Homo sapiens: one gene and its partners. The protein of the gene in region 1 purifies or fractionates together with the protein of each later gene. This does not show direct contact. Each region holds a gene or a part of one and is shown on either strand. Other genes may lie near its edges. The genes, in order: PRSS50, ZYG11B, TUBB1 and ZNG1C.

Region 1 (3,290 bases):
GAAGGAGTAGAATTGCCTCCTCCAGGGCACAGCATGGGGTGAAAGAGTCCATGCTATGGACTGAGAGTAGAGTTTGGAACCAGAGAAAACTGGGTCCGCATCCCTTCCACTGCCTCCTAGCTATGCAGCCCTGAGTGGTTCATTGGGCTTCTCTGAGCCTCAGTTTCCCCCTCCATAAAATGAAGGGTCTTGAGGACTGGACCACACAGTGAGTGTGCAGGGCCCTGTTCATGTCTGTGGTGAGGAGTAGGCTCAGGGGGCTTGAAGCGGGTGGGTGGCCCCTCCTGGATCTTCTGGGAGGGCAGCAGAGTGGGGGAAGGCCCAGGCTGGAGGCTGGGGCAGGGGGCCTGGAGCTGATCATGGCCTCCCCTCACGGCCCCCCTAGGCGTGATGTTATCTACTCAGTGAGGGTGGGGAGTCCGTGGATTGACCAGATGACGCAGACCGCCTCCGATGTCCCGGTGCTCCAGGTCATCATGCATAGCAGGTACCGGGCCCAGCGGTTCTGGTCCTGGGTGGGCCAGGCCAACGACATCGGCCTCCTCAAGCTCAAGCAGGAACTCAAGTACAGCAATTACGTGCGGCCCATCTGCCTGCCTGGCACGGACTATGTGTTGAAGGACCATTCCCGCTGCACTGTGACGGGCTGGGGACTTTCCAAGGCTGACGGTGAGTCAAAGCCTCTGCAGACCAGGGCGGGTGCTGTGAGAAAGGACGTGGGTGCAGGCCAGGGTGCCACCACAGATGGATGTTTCTGAGGCACCTTCCCCAGGGAGCCTGCCGCTCCCGGGACCTTCCTGCCAGGCTCTCATCTCTGAGGTCTCCTTCCCCTTGAGGATCTCGTGGGGAACACCTCACTGCTGCTCCAGCCTCAGGGGACCCTGATTGCCTTTGAATCCTGAGTCAGGCCAGGGCATGTAAACAGAACTTCCTTGAAGGCAGAGAGGCACAGAGTAATACCTCACAGTCCACACCCACTGCCCAGGCATCGGCAGCTTGCAGCAGAGCACCTGAGGTCGGGGGAGCAGTCTTCTGTGTTGTAAAATGCTGCCCAGAAGGCCCACATGGCTGGCTAGGGGCCGTCTGCAGCTGGAGCTCATGGTTTCCCCTCCCCTCAGTGGGCCTCAACTCCTGGTCGTCCCAATTCAGGAGCAAGGCCCAGAGAGCAGGTGTGTTCTCTCAGGAACATCCAGGGGACCCTAGAACTGTCTACTTCCTTCAGGGGGTCCCCAGCCCATAAGAGAGATGCCCTTCCCTGTGGCCTCAAGGAACCAACTTACTCTCAAAACAGCTCAAGGGGGCTTCAGCCCATGTGGGAGGACCTGGGAGTGACTTTGTCATCCCTGCTGTGGCCTGTCTCCTGTCTCCCAGGAGCTTAGGCCAGGGACAGGGACACACTACTCAGGGAGGCAGAAGGAAGAAGCAGTGCCTGGCCTCCATGGAGGGGTCTGGGAAGGCTCAGCAGGGAAGAGGCCTGTGGGAGAAGGGATGCTTGAAGAGAAGGAAGGCTTGGCAGGCCCTCAGGAGGGAAGGAGTGGCAAAAGCCAAGAGGCCGAGTGTGGTGGAGGTGGTGTCAAGGGCCCCAGTGGCCTGGGCACTGCAGGAAGCGAGAGCAGGCCCGGCAAGGCTGGGTTGGGGGTACTCTGCTCCGGGGGCTCTGTGTTGAGGGCCCTAGATGGGTATGGGCTAGAACGAGGGCAGAGGTGTGTGGCTAAAGCAGAAAAGGTGGGACGTGGGGAACAGTGGAGAGAGGACGAGTGAGGCTGGCGGTAGTGGGCAGCGGTGAGTGGCTGCGCCTAAATGGGGCCCTGTCCCACAGGCATGTGGCCTCAGTTCCGGACCATTCAGGAGAAGGAAGTCATCATCCTGAACAACAAAGAGTGTGACAATTTCTACCACAACTTCACCAAAATCCCCACTCTGGTTCAGATCATCAAGTCCCAGATGATGTGTGCGGAGGACACCCACAGGGAGAAGTTCTGCTATGTGAGCGGCCTCTCCTCGCTCACTCCCCTTCAGGGGCACCTGGGGGAGAGGCATCTGGGGAGGGAGAGCGGAACGGTGGAGGTTGGGTAGGGGAAGGGAAGGGGGTGGGCAGGACTCTGGGATATGGGGATGGAGGATGTCGGGGGAGACTGGGAGGAAACAGATGGGGGCTGGGAATGGGGATGGCTGTTGGAGGTGAGAGGAGTGGGGGGTCCGTGGGGAGATGGAGGGTGGGTGTTAAGAGGTGGGGGATGAAACCCTTTGAGGAAGAGCTCCTGGGTCTGGAGCACTTCTCACCTATGTTGGCACTGGGGGACTGTGGAGGTGTGGTGTGAGGACATCCCGCCTGTCCTGGAGCTGGGTCGTCTCTGGCCTTGCCTGGCCTCCCTGACCCTTACTCCCCCAACCCTTCCCACAGGAGCTAACTGGAGAGCCCTTGGTCTGCTCCATGGAGGGCACGTGGTACCTGGTGGGATTGGTGAGCTGGGGTGCAGGCTGCCAGAAGAGCGAGGCCCCACCCATCTACCTACAGGTCTCCTCCTACCAACACTGGATCTGGGACTGCCTCAACGGGCAGGCCCTGGCCCTGCCAGCCCCATCCAGGACCCTGCTCCTGGCACTCCCACTGCCCCTCAGCCTCCTTGCTGCCCTCTGACTCTGTGTGCCCTCCCTCACTTGTGGGCCCCCCTTGCCTCCGTGCCCAGGTTGCTGTGGGTGCAGCTGTCACAGCCCTGAGAGTCAGGGTGGAGATGAGGTGCTCAATTAAACATTACTGTTTTCCATGCCTCCTTCTTCCCCGGCCTCAGAGGCCCCACGTTTCCTGGGCCTGCTCTGTTGGGAGTCCACAGGTGAACCAGATGAGGGTGAAGTGGGGAACTCCAGGCAGTTTACACTGAAAATTGCAGAGCCTCCAGGATCTCCCCCATTCAAAGGTTCGGGGTGGCTCCCGCAGAAGGTGGAGGGGGTGTGAAGGGGTGATATTAGGGTCAGATGATCGAGGGGCCTGGAACATACCGCCCAGGCTGAAGCTGGGGCTGCCAGGACCCAGCTGGGGTGCAGCTGTCTGGGCTGGAAAGTGGGTGCTCTTTCTGTGATAACTGTGGGAGTCGGGCTTTCCTTGACTTTGGCTGATTTCTGGCAAGAGGCTAGAACACAGCATTTCATTGCCCCAAAGAGCCATAGTGAACTTTGACCCTCTGTCTCTGTCTCCTGTCTGGAGACAGTGACAGACACCCACTGGAGTCAGATGTTATTCCAACCACCAGCAGCCAGGCCTGCCCATAAAAGGCTAGTGGTGGCCCCAT
Region 2 (7,037 bases), on another chromosome or scaffold:
CAGTAAAAGTAGCCTTTTTCAGAAAGCAATCATTACAAGTGGATCACTAAGGAATTTGAAGTTTGCATTAATATTAACTTTTAAAGCCAAATGTCTAGAATAAAAGTAGACAAGACACACTTTACATAAAATTTATAACATTTATTTAGGCAAAAAAAATCCCAAAACAAAAATCTGTACACACAACATTAATACTTAAGTGATGTCCTGATTTAAAATACAGCATGATTCATGTACAGAATACTCCCATTCATCTGGCCATAGTGAGAACAGTGCCTTCAGTCCAGATAATTGAGAGTCTTTGAAATATACACACTTTCCAATGAATTTTTTATATCCTTAGAAAGGAGTTAAACTGTTCTATCAGAATTCAAACAAAAGATAACTTCTCTCACACTCATAAGTCAGTGAGAATTTGACAGTGGGAATTCTACAAAAGTCAGGGATTTCTTAATTTTTGTTGTTGCAGATTATCTGAGAGTATAAAGTTTTTAAGGAAAAACAATGCTCTTAAGATCCTGCTTTTAATAAAGTGTCTCAGCTTTCATTAGCTAAGTAGCTTCTTCCTTCTAGGCTGCTTAAAATAAGCTTAAAAGGACCCAATTTGAACAGTTTTTCCCAAAATAAGTCCAAAATTAAACACATAACATTAATAAAATAGATTGATGATTTCCCACAAAATAATTTTGATAAACTTGGATTTTGGAAATATTCTTAATGGCCATTCTGTCTAGCTGTAAAGTTAGGCTGTGCTATCCAAAAGAGCTTTACTTTAGAGTCATGAGAAGCAGCACTGATCTTTGCAAAACTTACCCCAAAAAATGGGGAGAGAGAAAAACAGGAAGAAAAGTCTCTTTCTTAGGCTACCAGTCAGTTAACAAAGTATCTTAGATTAAGATTTGGAAACCAAAGAATGCATAATTAGGAGTGTACCATATCATGCAAAGTCTATGAAATACTAAATAAGGTAAAACAGTTAATCATTTAAAGCACGATGAGCAAATTCTCTTATCATACGGCTATTCTCATCACCGGACGAAGGTTGGTTTTGCATTATTCCTAAAATAAAACAGTTCGTGAGTGAATACTGCAAATTAAAAACTGTCAAAACACAGCAAATGATAAGGACTAAACATCCATTATCCACAAACTCATTTGAAACTACTACCATGGATTTGAGAGGGAAACCAAAAGTTTGCAAACCTCTCTGGGAGCTGTGTCAAAGTTAGTATTCTGAAGCCCTAGCAATACAAAGTCCCCAAATAAGTAAAATACAGATAAAAGTGGAAGAGCCTACATCAGCTCAAAGTAACATACTTCCTTTAACTTATGCCTTCAGTTTAATAATACTGTTTATACCACTACATTGTATAATAACGAAATAATGTAAACATACCATTAGAGGGCAGGAGAGGGATGGGTTTCACCATATACAAAGAGTTTAAGTTTGTTTTCCCTGCTACCTCTTTTTAACCTTGGGTGCAGCTGTACATTGTTCTATAGGGGTATTGTTCTATAGTTTAAAAACACTAAGCTAAATCTCTGGTAAATTAACCTAATTTAGCACATAAAATATGTTTTCATTAAACATATGGGATAGGAAGGGATAGGAAGATGGCCCGGTGTTATGTTGATGCATGGCATAATTAAAAACACAGCTAAGACCAGGCACTGTGGCTCATGCCTGTGATTCCAGCACTTTGGGAAGCTGAGGTGGGAAAGTCACTTGAGGCCAGGAGTTCGAGACCAGCCTGGGCAACACAGTGAGACACCATCTCTCTCTCTCGCTTTTTTTTTTTTTTTTTTTTTAACATAGCCAAATAAGATGACTGGGGAGAAAACAGATTAACACAAAAGGTCCCACCTGTAAGGGCAACTTCCTAAAGCTAGATATATAGAACCGATGGTTTTAAACATAAAACTTGATTATGTAGAAGTTTGCAAATGAAATATATCACGAAAGCAAATTCCCATGCAGCTTTATTCACCTCAACCATGTGTAATCTACTTAAGGTGACTAGTGCCACTATAAGGCATTACTGTCCCAGGGTGACAAGAAGCAATATTTATACTCAATTCCTGAAACTGGGGGTCTGATATGCTTTTTAAAAATCCTAAACTAACTAATATCAGTAGCCATGGAGTCATCGGCTTGAGGGTAAACTAATCCCTTATACCACTTGATTTATTTTATTAATTAGTTAATAATGCAGTTAATTTTCAACTGCAAAAAGAAAAAATTATTTTGTGGAGTAGAAAGACCACAGCAATAATTACTTGATGCAAAAAATAAGACACCTTAATTGTATTTGCTCAAATCTGTTGTCTTAATGATACCAATATGTATCATTATAATCTATTTTTTAAAAATTTTCCTCATTATGCCCTAGAACATCATTATACTCTAAAAAGTCAAATTCCATTTCCTTTAGATTTCCTTAATGTTGCTTGTGGACTGATGTAGTGATATTTTACATTGGAGCCCACCAATGATTTGAACAATGAGTGGTTCAACCCTAGTCTAAATTGTGCTTGAAACAGCACCTCTAGCCACTGAGAGATAACACTCAAAGGCACCAATAACAGTTATATTCTAGTCTACAGGTGCAAAAAGGAGGCCTTGTAGATTCTAACTATAGATACTGGCTACTTATGCCTCATAATTCCAATACATACATCCACTGTATTTTAGCCAGATTCAGGACCTTACACACAATTCTGTGCCTTAATTCTATACGCAATTTTAGGAACCATCCCAACTGCAAAGGCACTCAAATTTTTATATATTTGGGATGTAATAAATTATTATGCTTTTTTTTTTTTTGAGACGGAGTCTTACTCTGTCACCCAGGCTGGAGTGCAGTGGCATGATATTGGCTCACCACAACCTCCACCTCCCAGGTTCAAGCGATTCTCCTGCCTCAGCCTCCTGAGTAGCTGGGATTACAGGTGCCCGCCACCACACCCAGCTAATTTTTGTATATTTAGTAGAGACAGGGTTTCACCATTTGGGCCAGGCTGGTCTTGAACTCCTGACCTTGTGATCCACCCACCTCGGCCTCCCAAAGTGCTGGGATTACAGGCGTGAGCCACCGCGCCCGGCCTATTATGCTTTTAAGACTCAGAAGTATCTGGCCACTACTGATGTTTACAAAGTAGGAAATTTAGCCTGTAGTTCCAGCTACTCCAGAGGCTGAGGGGGTAAGATCACATAAGCCCAAGAGGCTGCAGTGAGGTATGATTGTGCCACTGCACTCCAGCTTGGGCGACAGAGTGAAACTCTGTCTCTACAAAAAGAAAAAAAGTAGGAAGTTTAATTTTTTTTTTCCCCAGAGTCTCACTCCGTTGTCCAGGCTGGAGTGCAGTGGCACGATCTTAGCTCACTGCAACCTCCACTTCCTGGGTTCAAGTGATTCTCGTGCCTCAGCCTCCCGAGTAGCTGGGACTATAGGCGTGCAAAAAAGCCACCATGCCCAGCTAGTTTTTGTATTTTTAGTAGAGACGGGGTTTCACCACGTTGGCCAGGGTGGTCTCGAACTCCTGATCTCAAGTGATCTGCCCGCCTCGGCCTCCCAGAATGCTGGGATTACAGGCAAGAGCCACTACGCCCACCCTTGCTTTTACATATTTTGGATGCTTCAACTATTAAGAAGTTATTCTGAGTAAAGAAGGGATTTACTGTTTTCTGTACACTTTTAGCCATTTCTGAAAATAATTTGTAAAGACAAAAACCTAGCATTAGCCTGTAAAGAAATATGCACTTTTGTCTTATAAAACAGAAACTTGAAGCCAAACTTCTTAAATAGGCTTTCCCTTAACTACACTAGATAAAAGACCTGGAAACGGTCAACATATCTAGCAATTTCCAAACTACCACAGGCCATCTCGTTTTCTGAACTTTGTCTTAGACATTAACATTCGAAAAAGGAAAAAAAAAAAAAAAACTTTTAAAAGAATTCTCTATTTTGTCTGAAATAAACTTAGTCTGTGAAAATTTATCTTACGCCTATAAAAATTCCTTAAGCCAATTAAGTCAGCATTAACCCAGCATTTAATATGGTTTTCAGTGATTCTAAATATCTATTTAGATATTTATTTGAGTCAGCGTCTCGCTCTGTTTCCCAGGTGCCACCACACCCAGCTAATTTAAAAAAAAAAAATTTTTTTTTTTGGTAGAGACCGAGTCTCACTATGTTGCCCAGGCTAGTCTTGAACTTCTGGGCTCAAGCAATCCTCCTGCTTCAGCTTCCCAAAGTGCTGGGATTACAAGCATGAGCCACTGCATCCAGACCTAAATGCCTACTTTCTTTTAACTCAGTTTTCATTCACATGAAGGAACTCCAAAAAAAATTCAAGTCTGATTATTGTGATAATGGTATAAAATGTTTGTCAAAAAATGTCATCAGTGAACTAACAAACCAGCTCCTTTCTAAATTAAAATGCTTCTGAATAATCACTATAATTTTAATATTCCATTTTAAATCTCTGTTGAAAACACTGGCCATCTATGAAAAAAAATGTAGTTATCTGGGATTGTAGATTGACCTTATTCACAAAATAAAATTTTAAATGAAAATTAAGTTTCTTGGTGACTTGCTATCTCTCAAGTGCTATTACTGATATAAGTGATTCTTTACTATACTGTATCAGATACCTTAAGGAAAGGTAATTGCCTAAAAAATAATCTGTCAAAAATATGTGCTGTTATGCACTGCGAGTAGAATCATTACATTTAATCATTTAAAGAGTTTAATTATTTTCTTTCATTTTTGGCAGTGAGATGGGGACACTTTCTCTAACATGAACACATTAAGAAGATACACATATTTTGAACAAGAGATTTTAACTTTTTATGGCAAAATTTACTGGTGTCAATTGTATTTTAATTGAGAGGTTAACACCATGTTGCTGTCTCTATTCCACTGAACAAAAATGACTTTGAAATAGAGGAAAAGAATAGCCAGTTTTAACTGGCGATAATTTTTTAAAATCACATTTTCACAACACTACAACATATGGAGATGTAGACAGTTAGTCTTTAACACAGAGTGCTGTAGTATTTTATACTGTGGTGCTTGGGGAAATATTCCTAGTGAATAACCGGCAGTCTGTGCAGGAACCAGCAGTCCACACTTCTAGGTATAAATATGGAGGACAAGCTTCTGCTCACCGCCTCAAGAGAGGTGGACTCCCGAAGGGTAGCCTGTCTCATTTTAAAACCTATACCATGAAACCAATTCCCAGTTCCTACACTCTGTTCTACCTTCATAATTTTTCTTTCTCATATATCTTTCCGCCAGCCATCCAGGCTCCTGCCAGTGATTAGCTTCCACAAGATGATCCACATTTCCCTTCTTTCACACTAAGAAGGACATCTTATAAAATATACACAGATAGAGAAGAAAGGCATTTTATACAGAAGCAGTATAAAATTTACAACTGAAGCAGTGTCAGAAATCAGGTCAACAGCTTATGTGAAGCTGCAAATTGATTGGAAGGGACTCTGAGATCAGAAAAGTCTGGCCTAAGGGTTCGTGCAAACTTTACCATAAAACTGTAGAATCTCAAGCACAAGTAAGTTCAAACACTGAAAGATGTGGAAAATTTCCTAAAAGGCAATGATAAAGGAAGAGACCCTTCTTGACTCATAAGTTTAAAATCACAAGACAAATTAGAGACTGTTCACATGGGCAGTACTACACATTATCAATCCCAAACTGATTTTATGACTCTTGTCATAGAAACCCCCAAAACATCAGGGAGGGTAAGATATTCCAAATGGACCAATCACAAAAAGGATTCCTGTGATTCAACTATCCAATACTTATGGCTATCAATTTAGTCTGGCTTGGGGCTGTTTTTTACAGGGAGGTGGCCTCCCATGGCGCACAATGTGTTTTTCTAAGCTATCCAGAATGGCCACAGCAATCTGTTGGACATGGGGATCAGTATGTTCATGATCTTTGATGTTGTATAAATGCTGCAATCCTCCTTCTTCAATCAGCATGCTGCAATACCTTGAAGCTGAAAAAGAAAAAAAAACACACACAAAACAGGAGAAATAGCTTTTCTTAAAACACTTGAAAATTATTCCACAAAAAAATGACTTCTAGGAGCCATTTTTTTTTAGCTGTTTTGTTATTGATCACTAACATGCTACAGCTTGATAAATAACCTCTATACTGATGTTACGTCTACAGTGCAAGGCCTACACATTCAATCAATAAATAGCTAGCTTGATTTTTCTAACCTCAAGACATGTACAACCTGTATTAAAAAAATAAAAACAATCATAACTACCTTATCTTTGACCCAAAATCACAGGTAAGTGTTGTTATATTTTTATGCATTTCCTATGCTTTTTTTTTTTTTTTAGACAGAGTCTTGCCCTGTTGCCCAGGCCAGAGTACAGTGGCGCAATCTCGACTCACTGCAGCCTCCGCCTCCTGGGTTCAAGCGATTCTTGTGCCTCAGCCTGGAAATACAGGCACATGCCACCACCCCTGGCTAATTTTTTTATTTTTAGTAGAGATGGGGTTTTACCATGTTGCCTAGGCTGGTCTCAAACTCCTGCCCTCAAGCAATCCTCCCGCCTCAGCCTCCCAAAGTACTAGAATTACAGGCATGAGCCATAATGCCAGGCTGCATTTACTATGCTTTTTAAAAACTTAATGGCACTCATACTGCACATACAATTTTTAAATTTTTGAAATATTTTATTAGCCTTTTTTTTTTTTTTTTTTTTTTTAAAGACAGTCTCATTCTGTTGCCCAGGCTGGGGTGATCATGGCTCATGCCCAGTGGTGTGATCATGGCTCACTGCAGCTTGCTGTGTTGCCCAGGCTGGAGTCCAATGGCACAATTTTGGCTCACTGCAACCTCTGCCTCCCGGGTTCAAGCAATTCTCCTTCCTCAGTCTCCTGGGTAGCTGGGACTATAGGCACCAGCCACCACACCTGGCTAAATTTTTGTATTTTTGGTAGAGGTGGGGTTTTACCACGCTGGCCAGTCCAGTCTCAAACTCCTGACCTTAAGTG
Region 3 (7,561 bases), on another chromosome or scaffold:
GAATTCTTATCTGATTTCACAGTAATAACTCATTTCACTTTGGGGATTTCTTTTCATGAACTTTTCCAAACAGCCCATAACTTGGACCTCTGTGCATGATTTTAAGTAATTAGCGCCTTTTTTTTTTTTTTTTTTGATGGAGTCTTATCTGTGCAGTGGCGTGATCTCGGCTCACTGCAACCTCCGCCTCCTGGGTTCAAGCGATTCTCCTGCCTCAGCCTCCTGAGTAGCTGGGACTACAGGCACGCACCACCACGCCCAACTAATTTTTATATTTTTAGTAGACACGGGGTTTCACCATGTTGGCCAGGATGGTCTCTATCTCTTGACCTTGTGATCCACCCTCCTTGGCCTTCCAAAGTACTGGAATTACAGGCATGAGCCACAGCACCCGGCCTTTCTTTCTTTTTTTTATTTTTTTATGTTTGTTTGTTTGTTTGTTTATTTATTTATTTTGAGACAGAGTTTCACTCTTGTCACCTAGGCTGGAGTGCCGTAGCACAATCTTGGCTCACTGCAACTTCCACCTCCTGGGTTCAAGCAATTCTCCTGCCTCAGCCTCTCAAGTAGCTGGGATTACAGGCGTCCACCACCATGCCCAGCTAATTTTTGCATTTTTAGTAGAGACAGGGTTTTGCCATGTTAGCCAGGCTGGTCTCAAACTCCTGACCTCAGGTGATGCACCTGCCTCGGCCTCCCAAAGTGCTAGGATCACAGGCGTGAGCCACTGTGCCCGGCCAGTAATGTGCATTTTTGATTGTCAGGTATACATACAACTCACAATTACACATAGTTGTCCTCTGGTAACTATTTGAAACATACTGCACTTCCAGTCACATACACAGTACTTATTAATATAGATATGTGCCAAGCTCTTAATATGGAAACAGTTACTGGGAAGACTCCTTTTGATCACCCTGAAAGGCACATATTAAAATGCAATGAAAATGTATTCACATATATTAAAATCCCCAAGGGTATGTTAAAAACCCCAGCCATATCTTCTAAATGACAGTGCTGCTCTGGCCATGGTCTTAATAACAAGGCAGTTCATGGTAAACTGCCAGCACTGTTCAGGGAGTGGAAGAATAAATAAATTCAAGTTCTAAGATACCCCAAATTAAATGTGTCTTAAAGTTCTTATATCTCTAAATGATGAGTCAGCCAGGACTCTCAACGCTAGACCATACGATTCCAGAGTGAGAGCTAAAACCCTATCTAAACCTAACACTTTCTCTTGAGGGCCCCTTTCCGTATTATCTTCCAGCTTCAGAGCAGCAGGGCTCCTGCCTCCCACTTCTCTGTGTGTGAGTTATGAATGTCTTACCCCTGAGGCATGGAGGAATGGTGACTTCTTTTCAAGCAGTAATGTTCCTTGCCCCCGGTTTAAAACGCCTGCATTTAAAAGCCTTAGTTGTTTCCTGGCAGCATTACTCACAGTAGCCAAAAGGCAGAAACAACCCAAGTGTCATTGATGGATGATGAATGTAGGTGTTTCAAAACCTCACTTTTAATGCATCTCATATTAGTAAAAGTAATTTCACAGCAGCAAAGAGAACACGATAAATTTTGCACGGTGCAATTGGTCATCTTAAAATCAAGATTGGAGATTGTGGGTTCGGGCATCTGTGTTCTTGGGGTTGGCCAATTAAGTTACGTACTTGGGGGAAATTTTTAAGCAGGGGGGCAAGGGAAAGAAAAACTCATTTATATTCCAGACAGTGTATTTTAATTAATTATGTTACTGTACACAAAAAACTTTTATTTTCAATTAAATTTCTTAAATTTTCAATTGCATACTAATAAAACAGTAATTGATTTTTTTTAAGCGTTACAATAAACATGAGAGGGGAGGGGAAAGACACCATAGTGACAGGGTACAGAAAGTTTCTCAAAAAACTTCAAAAAGCTGTTTTGAGACAAATTACTGTTTTTAGATATGAAAAGTTCATTGTTAAGATAAAAGTGGGCCAGGTACAGTGGCTCACGCCTATAATCCCAGCACTTCGGGAGGCCCAGGCGGGCACATCACCTGAGGTCAGGAGTTCGAGACCAGCCTGACCAACATGGTGAAACCCCATCTCTACTAAAAATACAAAATTAGCCAGACGTGGTGGCGCATGCCTGTAATCCCAGCTACTGGGGAGGCTGAGGCAGGAGAATCACTTGAACCCAGGAGGTGGAGGTTGCAGTGAGCCAAGATTGCGCCATTGCACTCCAGCGTGGGCAACAAGAGTGACACTCCATCTCAAAAAAATAAAAGATGATAAAAGTGCCAGGCACGGTGGCCTACACCTGTCATCTCACCACTTTGGAAGCCTGAGGCAGAAGGATCACTTGAGCCCATGAGTTCAAGACCAGCCTGAGCAACAAAGTGAGATCCCTGTCTCTCAAAAAAAAATTTAAAAATTAGCCAGGCATAGTGGTGCATGCCTGTAATCCCAGCTACTCAGGAGGCTGAGGCAGGAGAATAGCTTGAGCCCAGGAGGTTGAGGCTATAGTGAGCCATGATTCTGCCACTCTACTCCAGCCTGGGCAACAGAGTGGGCAAAGAAAAAGATGATAAACGTATTATGTAATATAATGGTCGGCATGTATTGTACATATGTATCTATGGATAAAATTAACATTAATTAAATTAACACTCTAAGCACTTAATGTGTGTTGTAGCTCTTTAGTTAAAGATTGTTTCCTTCTTTTCCCATGTGAAATTTTTTTTTAAGAATTAAAGCCCAAAGGCATTGTCTGATATTTAGCAAGTACATTAAATCTGCTAGACTTATTGTCTTCCCTGCTAACTTAGGGTATTTTTTTGGTTGTCCGCCTCTATGGACTGTGGTAAAGCTAGGATTAGTAACCAGACATTACTTACCTTGGCTCCGATCTGGTTGCCACACTGGCCAATCTGAATATGGACAATTTCACGCATCCTTGCTCTGAGCCCAAGTCTGAGATCTTCACGGAATCCTCAGACTCTCAGAATCCAGAGCTTCGGTTCACTGGTGTGAGCCCAACACAACTGTGGTCACTGCAGTGGTGGGACTGGCCAACCAAGCTACCCTCACAATGTGACCAAGGGTGTGTCCACCCCAGAGGCCCAGCTCCCCGCCCTCAGCCAGTCCTGGCCCTTCTCTGCTTTCTGCCTGTCATGCTTTTGGAAGGGAGTGTTTTTCCTCCCTCAACACAGAATACTGCCCCATCATTTCCTAGAGAGTGAGTGCAAGATTAAAGGCCACCTCGGGGCACAGGGCCTGGAGGCTGGCACTGTTTGCAGGCTTCTAGGTGACCATGCTGGCCCTAGTGACCGTGGTATGATGACTGTGGCTCCTAGCTCACCCAGGTAACCAGACCACCTCCAAGGGCTTTCCCTGTCCATCTTCCCGGCCCCTTTTCCAGACTTTGGTCCCCAGAAGCCCCGTGCCCCGCCACAGCAGGAGGCTCCACAACTGGGCCTCGCAGGTCCCAGGTCCCGGGATGGCCTGCATCAGGCACTGTCTGCCCGCCCTCCCCCACATGCCCTCTCTCGCCCTGTATGCAAGTTACTCTGCAGTGTCCTGCAGGTCTCTTGGACCCCTGCCCTATCCATGCCAGGGCTGGGCTGTGCCCCAGCACCCTTCCCAGCCCCTGCTCTGTCGTCCCATCTCAGCTCATGGTGTCTGGGGTCTTAATGTTTGCCATAGGGTCCCTTTACCAGACCCTGAATTCTCCAAGAGCAAAACGGACTCCCAATTGTATTCCCTTAGAGCCGGGTGTGGTGGCTCACTCCTGTAATCCCAGCACTTTGAGAGGCCAAGGTGGGCAGATCACCAGAAGTCAGGAGTTCAAGACTAGCCTGGCCAACATGGCGAAACCCCATCTCTTACTAAAAATACAAATATTAGTCAGGTGTGGTGGCACACACATGTAGTCTCAGCTACTCGGGAGACTGCGGCAGGAGAATCGCTTGAACCTGAGAGGCGGAGGTTGTAGTGAGCCGAGATCATGCCACTGCACTCCAGCCTGGGCGACAAAACAAGACTCTGTCAGAAAAAAAAAAAAAAGCATTCCCTCATGCGGTGTACAGGAGTGGCAGCAGGCTGGGTACTCAGCAGCTTGAAAGCAGCTGTTCTGTCTCCTGGTCCTCAGTACCTCCCCTGCCACCAAGTTTCTATCATCGTCGAAAGCCAGCCCTAGGCTTTATTACCTCCAACCAGGCAAGGGCATCCAGGCCAAACACCAGCTCCATATCCTTGCCCAGGAGGGTGGCAGTTCCCCACCGCCTGGAGGACAGAAGGTGGAAGCTTCCAAGGAAGATGGGGAAGGGACTCCCTGAGAAGGCGTGAGAGCCCTGGCTCGGAAGGGGAGAGCCAGTGGACGCTGCCTTGTGCCTGTTGAGCTGTCGAGGTGCAGGTGGGCAGGTACAGGGCAAGGCCTCACTCCTGAAGCCCCGAGGATGTGGACAACCACCATCCGGTGAGCAACCACCTCTTGAGGCCTCTCTTTAACGTCTGCCGGGCACCCTGAGGTTGCCCCCATTCTTTGAACAGCTATGGACGGGGACCTGTCATAGGCTGGGCTCACCTTGGGCGCTGCAGACAAGGGAATGAAGGAGGTAGATGTGGCCAGATCCTGCACTCTTGGAACTCTGGCTTACTTAGGAAGAGAGCACTCCTAGCTCTGGAGCAGCTCAAGGACACCATCTCTCAGGACAGGGACTCAGGACAGGCAAGACTACTGAACTCAGAGCGAGAAGCCCTGGAGGTCCTTCCCTCCCCTGCCTCTCGCCAGACCCGTGACCTTGGTTGAAGCATTGGAGCCCAGCCTGGTCCATGAGGGGCCTGTGCTTCCTGTGCCCCAAGCCCAGGCTTGACTCCTAAACCTTGTGTTCCTTCTACAGGCCTGGTGGGGCCCAGGATGTGAGGTCAGGAACACAATCAGGAAAGTTCCTAACGATGGAGTGTCTGGGGGAAATCGCTTCTGCTTACTCCCAAAGGAGCTCAAACACACAGCCAAAGGGCCTGAGCTATAAACCAGAAGAGAAACCCAGAGGTGGGGAAGAAGAAAGCACTGTGTCCTAAGAGTGCCTGGACTGGGACTGCTTCTCACCTCTGTCTAGTGTGTAGATCCCAGGCTGCCCTTGAGTACTGACAGTGCACCCCATGATCCTGGGCTGGATCCAGGACCAGGGAAGAGGGCTGCTATAGAGGATGGTATGAGGATCATTGTCAAAATTCAAATAAGGATTGTGTACACTGGAAAATAGTATTGTATCAGTGTTCCATTTCTTGACTTTGATCATGGCAGGGTGGTTCTAAGTGGAAGTCCTTGTTTCCAGGAGATCCCATATTATGAAGCACTGTGCTTCAAGGTCGTTTTGATGCTGGCAGCTTACTGGGAAACAGTTCCACAACCACATAACGTGATAAACGGAGAGAGGGCAGTTCAGCAAAGGGGCAAAGTGGTAACAATTGCTGGTTCTTTTCAAAGTTAGCACAAGATTAATACCCTTGTAACATTTCTCTAAGTTTGGAACTTTTTTGTGCTCAAACCTGAATGTCACATGACTCACAGATGCTTCCGGTCCAGTCACCCCTCCTCCCTGCCCAAAGGTAAAGAGAAGAATGTGCAAATTCAAGAGGAGGATATTCACAGGTCCTCAGCAGTATTTTTCAGAAATTAAAACAGACCATTTTATTAATGATCTGTTTAAATTAAAACAGACCTATTCATAGGTCCCCAGCAATATTTTTCAGAAATTAAAACAGACCATTTTAAAATTAAGAATAGACCATTCTGTTTCCATAGACATTAGCCCATCTTGCCTCACTTCCAGCCTTTCTCCTGGCGTGCCTTGGCCTCTTTTCCCCTTGTCTCTGTCCCCACCAGCTCTCCCGAGCCTCCCTCCCCACCCAGGGGCCCCTGCCTACCAGACTTCTCCGAAGATCAAAGACAGCTCCATGATCTTCCCACAGGCAGGTCCCTCATCAGAGACACTTCCTCTCCTGGGGACCAGAGCACTTCAACCTGCAGTGCCCACACACAGTCCTGTTTGCTAATTACTTATACACATGCCTTATCTCCCGCCAGCCTGGGAGCTGCCTGTGTCGTTTCATCTTTGAGTCCCCAAAGTGCCTGATCCATGGCAGGGCCTCAGTAAATGTTTGTTAAGGGCACACTGACAGCTGGGCAGGTTTGAGCAGTGATGCTCAGAGCGGGCTGTGTTCTTAAAGCCAGTGATGTATTTATTCACGAGTGTGTCCTTCTCCAGGTGGGGTCACCTTTTTCCTCCATTCCATAAGAGGTGGTCTAGGCTGGAGATATAAACTGTTCCAAGAAACCTGGATGTTGGGGACAGACTATAGATGGAATAACCGCAGTGAGCTATTACGGGAAGGTGTGACCGGTGGGCAGCCGTGGCCTTCTGTGGCCCAGCTCCTGAAAGGAGCCCCTGTTGGCCACAAACCGCCTTGCTGCAGGGACCACGGGGCTGGGCCCAAGGGGCATTTCTGGTCTGCCTGGGTTCACTGTTTGCCATGTGAGCAGGATCCAGGCTGCTGGGGTCCTCCGCCCACCCTCCGCACTGCAGCACATTCCTCTTGGCCATCTTAGTTTGCTTAGGGAGGGGAAAAAGCCAGGTTTCCAGGTGGGCGCTTAAAAGGTTTTTCTGTTAATGGGGCAGTTGGCAAAAAGGAGGAAAAAGAGAGAAGCCCTGTTTGCTTTGATTCTTGTATCGCCGGCCATGTTAATTCAGGCCAGGCGAGTGCTGAGCTTTGGACGCTGGGCTGTGAGAGGGTGAGGGACGGAGTGGCAGCTCCGCCACCCAGGGGCCCATCTCCGCCCTAGACCTGAACTTTTTCACGTGAAAAATGAAATAAAAGTCCCCACGTCACAAGTCGGTGTGAGGACTGGGCCTGCCAGGGCTGACCCCTAACGTGTGGCTGCCGGTGGTATTTTTCAAGTGGGCTTCGCAGGGTGGGAGGGGGAGATGCATTCCACACCTACAGACGGAGCACCTACTGTGTGGCAGACTTGACATGGCCGTGGACATCGGGGCCTGTCTCAATTTAAAATGTCTGGGCAGAACAGAGTGGCAGGAAAGGCAGCAGGTCTGGAAAGCCGTGCGTCCCGTCTCAGCTCTCTTGTCCTTGTTTCTGAAGGTACCTGCTCCCCAGAGGAAACAGCTCTCCTCTGATTGCCACCTTAGTGCCAGCAGTGAGGTGGGGAATACAGTCTGCCTTGCCCTCGGACTGGTAGAAGCGGGCCCTGTGCAGGACATAGGCGAACACTGCCCCTGGAGATGCCGGCACGACCCCAAGGTCTGTTTTGCCAGGCTGAAGGTGACGGCCCCCGTCCTGAGCTGCAGCAAGCGATTCACAGTGGCCACTGTGATGAGTGACAAAGTTGTTTTCTGCCCCCCCAACAAAGGGCTGTGACCAAGGCAGGTTAGCAGTGCCTGCATTTAGGTGAGGAGATCAGCAAGCATTGCCCCAGAGGGCAGGAGCTTCCTCCTAGCAAGTGTGGTGAGGACGCTATGGCCCACAACACTGAGATTCCCAACCAGGACCAGCCCAGCCCTGAGCCT
Region 4 (6,843 bases), on another chromosome or scaffold:
AAACACTCCTACAAGTTGAAACAGTTTCTTCAACCTAGCCTAACCTTCCCTAAAATTGACACACAATCTTTTATTTATAGTGACCTTTTATTTCAACATTAACGAGACGCAACTTCAGGCTGACTATATGGCTACTTATAGTATGCTTTAAACAATCTATAAAAGTTTTTATGAAATGGGGAATAGAGCCAGGTAGTGTCAACAATGAACAGAATGTTCAGTTAAGATAAATTCATAAAGCTATACCAACTTTATCCAGCAGGTGGCATATGAAACCCAATATGTCAATCTCCAGTAGAAAAAAAAGTCTTGTGAACCGTACACACTAAAATTCATAGAGGAAAAAAAGAAAATCCTAACTGCATAGTATTGTAGTTCAATTGTATGACTATATCATTTCTTTATCTTTTTTTTTGTTGGACATTTGGTTTGTTTCCAGTGTTTTACTATTACAGTGCTGCTAAAAACTTTTACATGTAGGCTATACATGTCTTCTGAAATAAAGTTTTCTAGTATATAACTAGATCTTCCTACAACTAGGAAGATTTTACGGAGTATTAGGGTATTAATATCTTTTAGGTCATATTCCTTTCAAAGCTTTTTAAGAGATGAAGGCTTATATTTAGAGTACTTTAGGAAGCTCAACATCACAAAAATATGAAGTATAGTATGGAAGAGAGAGACTTAGGGCAATGAGGAAGATCTTAAAACCAGTCCAAGCCTGAGACAGAGGCCCTGAACATGAGTGTTTCACAGGGCAGTGATGTGAAAACTGAAAGGAAAGGGTGAATGTAAGAAATCTTCTAAGAGAAGATTTACTAGGGCTTTTTAACCATATTATGAAAAAAAAAAACACTTTAAGACATAGTTCATTCATTCAAAGGTTTCTAATACGTTACAGATTTATGCTGGGCCTTGGTGAAAAAGTGAACAAGATAGTCTCTGCCTTCATAGAGCTTAGAAATATTAAGGGAAGGGGGGAATGGAGGGGAATTCAGTGAATAAGGAGGCAATTATGTCACAGGGTGACATATTCAATAGGAGATGCACAAAATGCTATGGAGAACCTAAGAGGGACATCTAGCCAGAGGAGTCACAGTAAAAAAGTACCTATTCCAAGGGGCTAAAACACTTGGCACCTTTGAAGTAACCTTAGTTTATTGTGCGGGGCCAATTTGGCAGGCTGGAAAGGTTGGCAAGATCCAGATCCTACAGGTCCTTGTAATTCATGTTAAGGAATTTGAATTTTAACCCATAGGGACGCCACTGAAAGGTGTGACGCAGTCGGATTGACATTTATAAAGATCATTAAGGCTAACATGCAACGAATAAATTAAAGGGCAGCAAGACTCCAGATTAGTCAGGAGGCTTTTAGAGTATTCCAAATGGTTGGGATCACAGAAGCAGGATTTGGGGGGATGGTAACAGACGAAGTTTCAGACATGTTAAGTTTTAAGTTGTAGGACATCAAAATAGAAATTACACAGGTGTGTAGCTAAAGATGGACAAAGGGGGAAGGAGGAGGGAGCCTTAAAAAGAAGCCAGAGAAGCAGGTGGAAAAATCAGAAGAAAAATGTAATAGAAGCCAAAGGAACAGTGTTTCAAAAAGGGAAAATGGTCAGGGATAGGAGTGAAACTATCCCTAGATTCAGCAACAAGGTTGCTGGTATTAATTCTCACTCCTGAGCTTCAGATCATTTTCTCCAATGATCTACTGACCTACCAGTGAGCAACACGGGAAAGGCCCGAGGGGCACGTTTGAAATACATTGTTTTGGACAAGAAATTTGTTCATCTTCTCAGTAGAGCAGCCTCTGAATAACTGTGGGGAAACGCCAAAAATAAATTCCTTTATAAAATTACTTCCGAGCAAAAAACGGGAATAAACTTACAGTCTACAAAGTTTTTAAAAAAACAAAAGCAGTTATTTCTTATTTTTACATAAAAGGTCACGAAGTGGCCCAAGTCTGTACCTGTCTCTAGCAACAACTAGGAATATTATTTCCCGGAAACAGTATTATTTTATTTACATTTCTTAACTTTTTCCAAACTTCTAATACAGTCATATATTTGTTCTAGCCCTTCTATTTAACTGTAAGGTTTAAAAATATATTTCTCAAACTTTTCCAGTAAGAAACTTCTAGTGTAAGTGCATAAACCGCCCTTCACGAAACTACCAAGTTCACAAACTTGTGGTTTCGAGTATCCCTGTACACTCTAAACGTTCTTAGTTTGAGAAATAGTCTTGGAGGACAGAGATTTTATTCTTACTTCCTACGCAGTGGTTTACAAACAGACCTCAAAAGAAAAGTGTTTAAGATAGGAGCACTTCCTGCCAACTGGCTGGAGGACTTTGGCTCCTGGGGAAGGGGAATCTGCTGACGAAAGCCCCACGTGTCGGGCATTTTACAGACGGGACATCCTTTAATGGCAATAGGTAGGTTGTTCCGGCCCTATTTCACAGGTGACAGGTATTTTTCCATTTTCAGGTGAGGTAGATGAGCGTCAGGAAGGTAAGATAACTTGGTAAGAGGTCACAGAGACAATTAGGGGGGCGTGTCTTAGCTTCAAAGCCTTGTTTCAAAGGCTAACTTTCCATCTCACTTGAGAAATGGGAATCTAACGCAGAGGGGACCGGGCATCATTAACTCCCAAGATGAGAGGTAACCCATACGAGAAGCAAGTGACCCAGCCCCTACCTCAAAGACATTTGCTCTTGATCATGAGGCCCCAATGCCTCAGGAGAAGAGGCACCGGCAGCCCGCAAAATCCCATGACACCAGAGTTCACGGCATTTTGTGACTGGGATGGTTAGTTACCTAAATACCCGGTGATAATTGTGACTGGGATCTTGGCGCCGAGGCCAGACTTTTCCTCCTCCTCGCTTTGCGTCGTCTCAATGGGAACCAATTCAGGACAATCCTCCTCCGCAGGATCCTCTTCCTCATCCACAGATCCAACAGCCGGTAACATTCCGGCCTACAGCACGTCCCTACCTCAGCTGAACCGCTGGGACCAACACGCCGTACCGCAGCCGCGCACGCCCAGCACGCCACTCCCGGCCTGGCCGGGGCCTGACGTCATCACATCGCGACGCTAGCTGATCCCGCCCGGATTACCTGGGCTCTGGACGAGAACTGCCTCGTCCCTTAGCCACACCCCCCGGGGAGGTGGGCTCTCCCCGACGACAGCTGGACACGCCCCTGGGCGTGTTCTGTGAACCTGAGCGACGCTGCGGAGAGTCCTTAGGGCGCACTAACCACCTGTCTGAAGGTGTCACTGGCGCCTAGAGCCTTAATAAGCTACTGGCTGTAGGTAGAGCTGAGGCCAGCCTGCTGGAAATCTGGAGTGGGTAGCCTGACCTAACCAGTTCCCACAGGGCATAGATTTTATCAACTTGATTTTTTAGTCTCGTTAAAAAAAAAAGTTTTAATTCATAGGGGAAAGAATGGAAGGTTATAACATTACAATTTTAATTGTAATTTTTATACCTGAAGGATAACCAGTGACAATTTTTTCTTTTTTTATTATTACATATTATATATGTAATTCCAAATTTTTAGTATTCATGCATCACTTTTATTTACTTTTTTCTCATTATTTATTTGGACCTCAGGTAACCTAAGTTCATTAATCATATTTGCTGGTGCATGACACTCTCATCACTAATCCATAGATAGCCCTTCTTTCTAATATAAATTTATAGTGAACTCCTTTGACCTCATTCCTAACATAAAAGCATTACCAGTAAGCTACACGTACCTATGTGCACCGCCCCCGCTTCCAATCCACAGCCTGCCCCATAAGATAGTAACAACAGTCATGAATTGGTTCTGGATTGCTGATCCTTCCCTGTTTTCTTTTTAGTTTTATCACATATCCCACGTATGTACTTAGAGAATATGTTGTTTAATTTTGGGTGTTTTTGAGCTTCATAAAATTATCCATATAATATATAAACTCCTGAGGCTTGCTATATTTTTCAGCATCACTGCTGTCTTGTATTCTATTGTGTGGCTACACGGCAATTTATTCATTTCCTCTCAATTGTTCCAGGTTTTGCTCTTATGAACAGGGCTGCTATGAACATTTTTCCTGACATATGTGTGTGCAACTTCCTCTTGAGTGTCTAAGAGTTGAATTGCTGGGTCCTAGATTATTCAAATGTTTTACTTCACAAGAAAATGCACAATTATTTTTCAAAATGTTTGTACAAATTGATACATTTTCCCAGCAAATTATAAGAGATCTCATTGGTCTGTATGTCAATATTATCAGGCATGCATTTTTCACCAATCAATTGAGTACAAAAGAAGACTTCATTGTGATCTTCATTTGCATTTCCTTGATTACTAACAAGGTTGAGAATCTTTTCATGTGTTTTGGCAATATGTAATTCTTAGAATGACCCTGTAGAGTGTTATCCCTCTTTCAAACATGAGGCACCAAGAGTTAAGTTACTTGTCCAGGTTAGGTCATAAAAATCTATCTGATGCACAAGTAGAATGTTTTACTACTATCCTGATGCCAAATAAAAGGTTGACTTTTCCTTCCTTCTCTGAAATTCCCCATAAAATATACTGTGTGTATTCCATTAGTTCTACTGATAAGTACATATAACTTGAAAGTATTTATCACGCCTTTTGCAGAACACAGTTAAGACAGAGGGTTTATATTTGTGCAAATGAGTATATTATATTCACACATACACTCGGTCTGAGAAATCAGGTCTTGAATGCTTTGCCAGCTTTGACAATGTAACCATGAACCAGCTGAGGAAGAAATAAGGCAAATACCTTAGGTGTGGTGGTTCAGTTCACTGTATTCTGCCAAAGGAGAGAAGCTGTGATGGGTAGCCCAAAATAGATAGCTTACGCCCTAAACACAATGGTTCATAAGCTTTTTCGTTTCAGGAATGCTATGAAGTATTGATTTTTTTGGCAACCTAAGGGAAGGAGTAACATTGCACCCACAGGCATCACACTATTTGCTTGATGTCCCTTCAGCACTGCATTACTGCCTGAATAGCAGCTATTACAGCCCTCACCATCTTCTTTGACATATTTTTAAAAGTACATTCTTGTGGGTTCCCAATATGGCACTGGCTGAATGTTATACTAAAATCCCTCTTTCTGTTTTTTGAGACAGGGTCTCACTCTGTCGCCCAGCATGGATTGCATTGGCACGATCACAGCTCACTGCAGTCCTAAACTCCTGGGCTCAAGTGATCCTCCCATCTCAGCCTCCCAAGTAGCTGGGACTCCAGTCATATGCCATTACATCTGGCTAATTTTTCTTTTTCTTTTTGGTAGAGACAGGGTCTCACTATGTTGTCCAGTCTGGTCTAAAGTCTCATCTCTAACAATGAACAACCTGTAACCTATGAGGCCAGCTCAGTCAAGTTGACCAAATAGCATTGTTGTAACAGTATGTAGCCTCAATGAGAGCAAAATAAGTTTTACACATTGGCCAAAAATTAAATGCACCACAAATATCTATCAACTGATAGACAACCAAAATGTGACAAATGGATAAACAAAATATGATCTATCCGTACAATGGAAAATTATTTGGCAATAAACAGGAAAAAGGACTGATACCTGCTACAAAATGAATCAATCTTGAAAACATTATGGTAAGTGAAAAAAGCTATTCACAAAAGACCACATGTTGTATGATTCCATTTATATAAAATAACCAAAATAGGCAAATCTATAGAGACAGAAAGTACATTAATGGTTCCCAGGAGTGGAGGACTGGGGAGAGACTACAGTGGTTTTTGGGCGGTGATGAAAATGTTCTAAAATTGATTATGGTGATGGTAGTACAACTCTGATTATACTGAAAACCATTGACTTGTACACTTTAAATTGGTGAATTGTATCATATGTGAAATTTATCTCAATAAAGCTGCTATTCTTAAAAGAAATAAACACCTATCTGTGCATCAAAATGGGGTGCCTGTGTGCATTTGTAGAGAAACACTGTCTTCAGCAGTTTCAAGTTCTGGCCTTAGGCACAAGTATAAAGATTACAGCTTGATAAAATTTTTCCTTTAGTCTGTTCCATATTCCTCTTCAGTTAAGTTTTTATCTATGGATTCTGTGGAGTCCTGTCATTTTATTTTCTCAGATAGAGTTGTAATTTCAGTTCTCCCAAAATAGCTGGGCATGACTTTTTATTTTTATTTCTTTTTTCTTTTTGAGATGGAGTCTTGCTCTGTTGCCGAGGCTGGAGTGCAGTGGCACGATCTTGGCTCACTGCAACCTCTGCCTCCGGGTTCAAGCGATTCTCCTGCCTCAGCTTCCTGAGTAGCTGGGATTACAGGTATGCACCACCACCCCCAGCTAATTTTTGTATTTTTAGTAGAGACGAGGTTTCACCACGTTAGCCAGGCTGGTCTTGAACTCCTGACCTCCTGATCCATCCACCTCAGCCTCCTAAAGAGCTGGGATTACAGGCGTGAGCCACTGTGCCGGGCTTTTTTTTTTTTTTTAACTTATAAGAGGGTTAAATTGTTAAATTGTTAAATTGAAAATGCCTTTTTAAATAAGTATGAAATTTCTTAATTATAATATTTTAGAATCTATTACAGTTTCTGATGTATCTTAAAAATTCCTCCTCATCTAGCTTTGCTATTTTGTCTCATTTACTTTAGGGTAAAACAACAACAGCAACAACAATAATAATGTTTTGAGCCCCTAAGCATCTGATAGGCACTGTGTTAAGCACATTAAATGCATTATCCCATTTAACTCTCCAAGGTAAATACTATTTGTGTGCCCATTTTATAGATGAGGAAATTGAGGCTTAGAAAAGATAAATACCTTGCTCAAAGTCATAC

The links.
Region 2: the proteins of PRSS50 (region 1) and ZYG11B purify together in Homo sapiens (affinity purification with mass spectrometry; 3 studies listed by BioGRID and IntAct, with this or other methods). This does not show direct contact.
Region 3: the proteins of PRSS50 (region 1) and TUBB1 purify together in Homo sapiens (affinity purification with mass spectrometry; 3 studies listed by BioGRID and IntAct, with this or other methods). This does not show direct contact.
Region 4: the proteins of PRSS50 (region 1) and ZNG1C purify together in Homo sapiens (affinity purification with mass spectrometry; 3 studies listed by BioGRID and IntAct, with this or other methods). This does not show direct contact.

Annotation. Positions count from the first base shown.
Region 1 is NC_000003.12:46,711,597-46,714,886, reverse strand, and holds the end of PRSS50 (probable threonine protease PRSS50 precursor), read left to right. Parts: intron 1-385; coding exon 386-669; intron 670-1,819; coding exon 1,820-1,986; intron 1,987-2,404; coding exon 2,405-2,641; 3' UTR 2,642-2,770; downstream 2,771-3,290. UniProt on the Homo sapiens protein: May be involved in proteolysis through its threonine endopeptidase activity.
Region 2 is NC_000001.11:52,820,426-52,827,462, reverse strand, and holds the end of ZYG11B (protein zyg-11 homolog B), read right to left. Parts: intron 6,025-7,037; coding exon 5,834-6,024; 3' UTR 127-5,833; downstream 1-126. UniProt on the Homo sapiens protein: Serves as substrate adapter subunit in the E3 ubiquitin ligase complex ZYG11B-CUL2-Elongin BC. Acts to target substrates bearing N-terminal degrons for proteasomal degradation with the first four residues of substrates being the key recognition elements.
Region 3 is NC_000020.11:59,014,891-59,022,451, reverse strand, and holds the start of TUBB1 (tubulin beta-1 chain), read right to left. Parts: upstream 3,024-7,561; 5' UTR 2,930-3,023; coding exon 2,873-2,929; intron 1-2,872. UniProt on the Homo sapiens protein: Tubulin is the major constituent of microtubules, a cylinder consisting of laterally associated linear protofilaments composed of alpha- and beta-tubulin heterodimers.
Region 4 is NC_000009.12:68,238,161-68,245,003, reverse strand, and holds the start of ZNG1C (zinc-regulated GTPase metalloprotein activator 1C), read right to left. Parts: upstream 3,022-6,843; 5' UTR 2,973-3,021; coding exon 2,819-2,972; intron 1-2,818.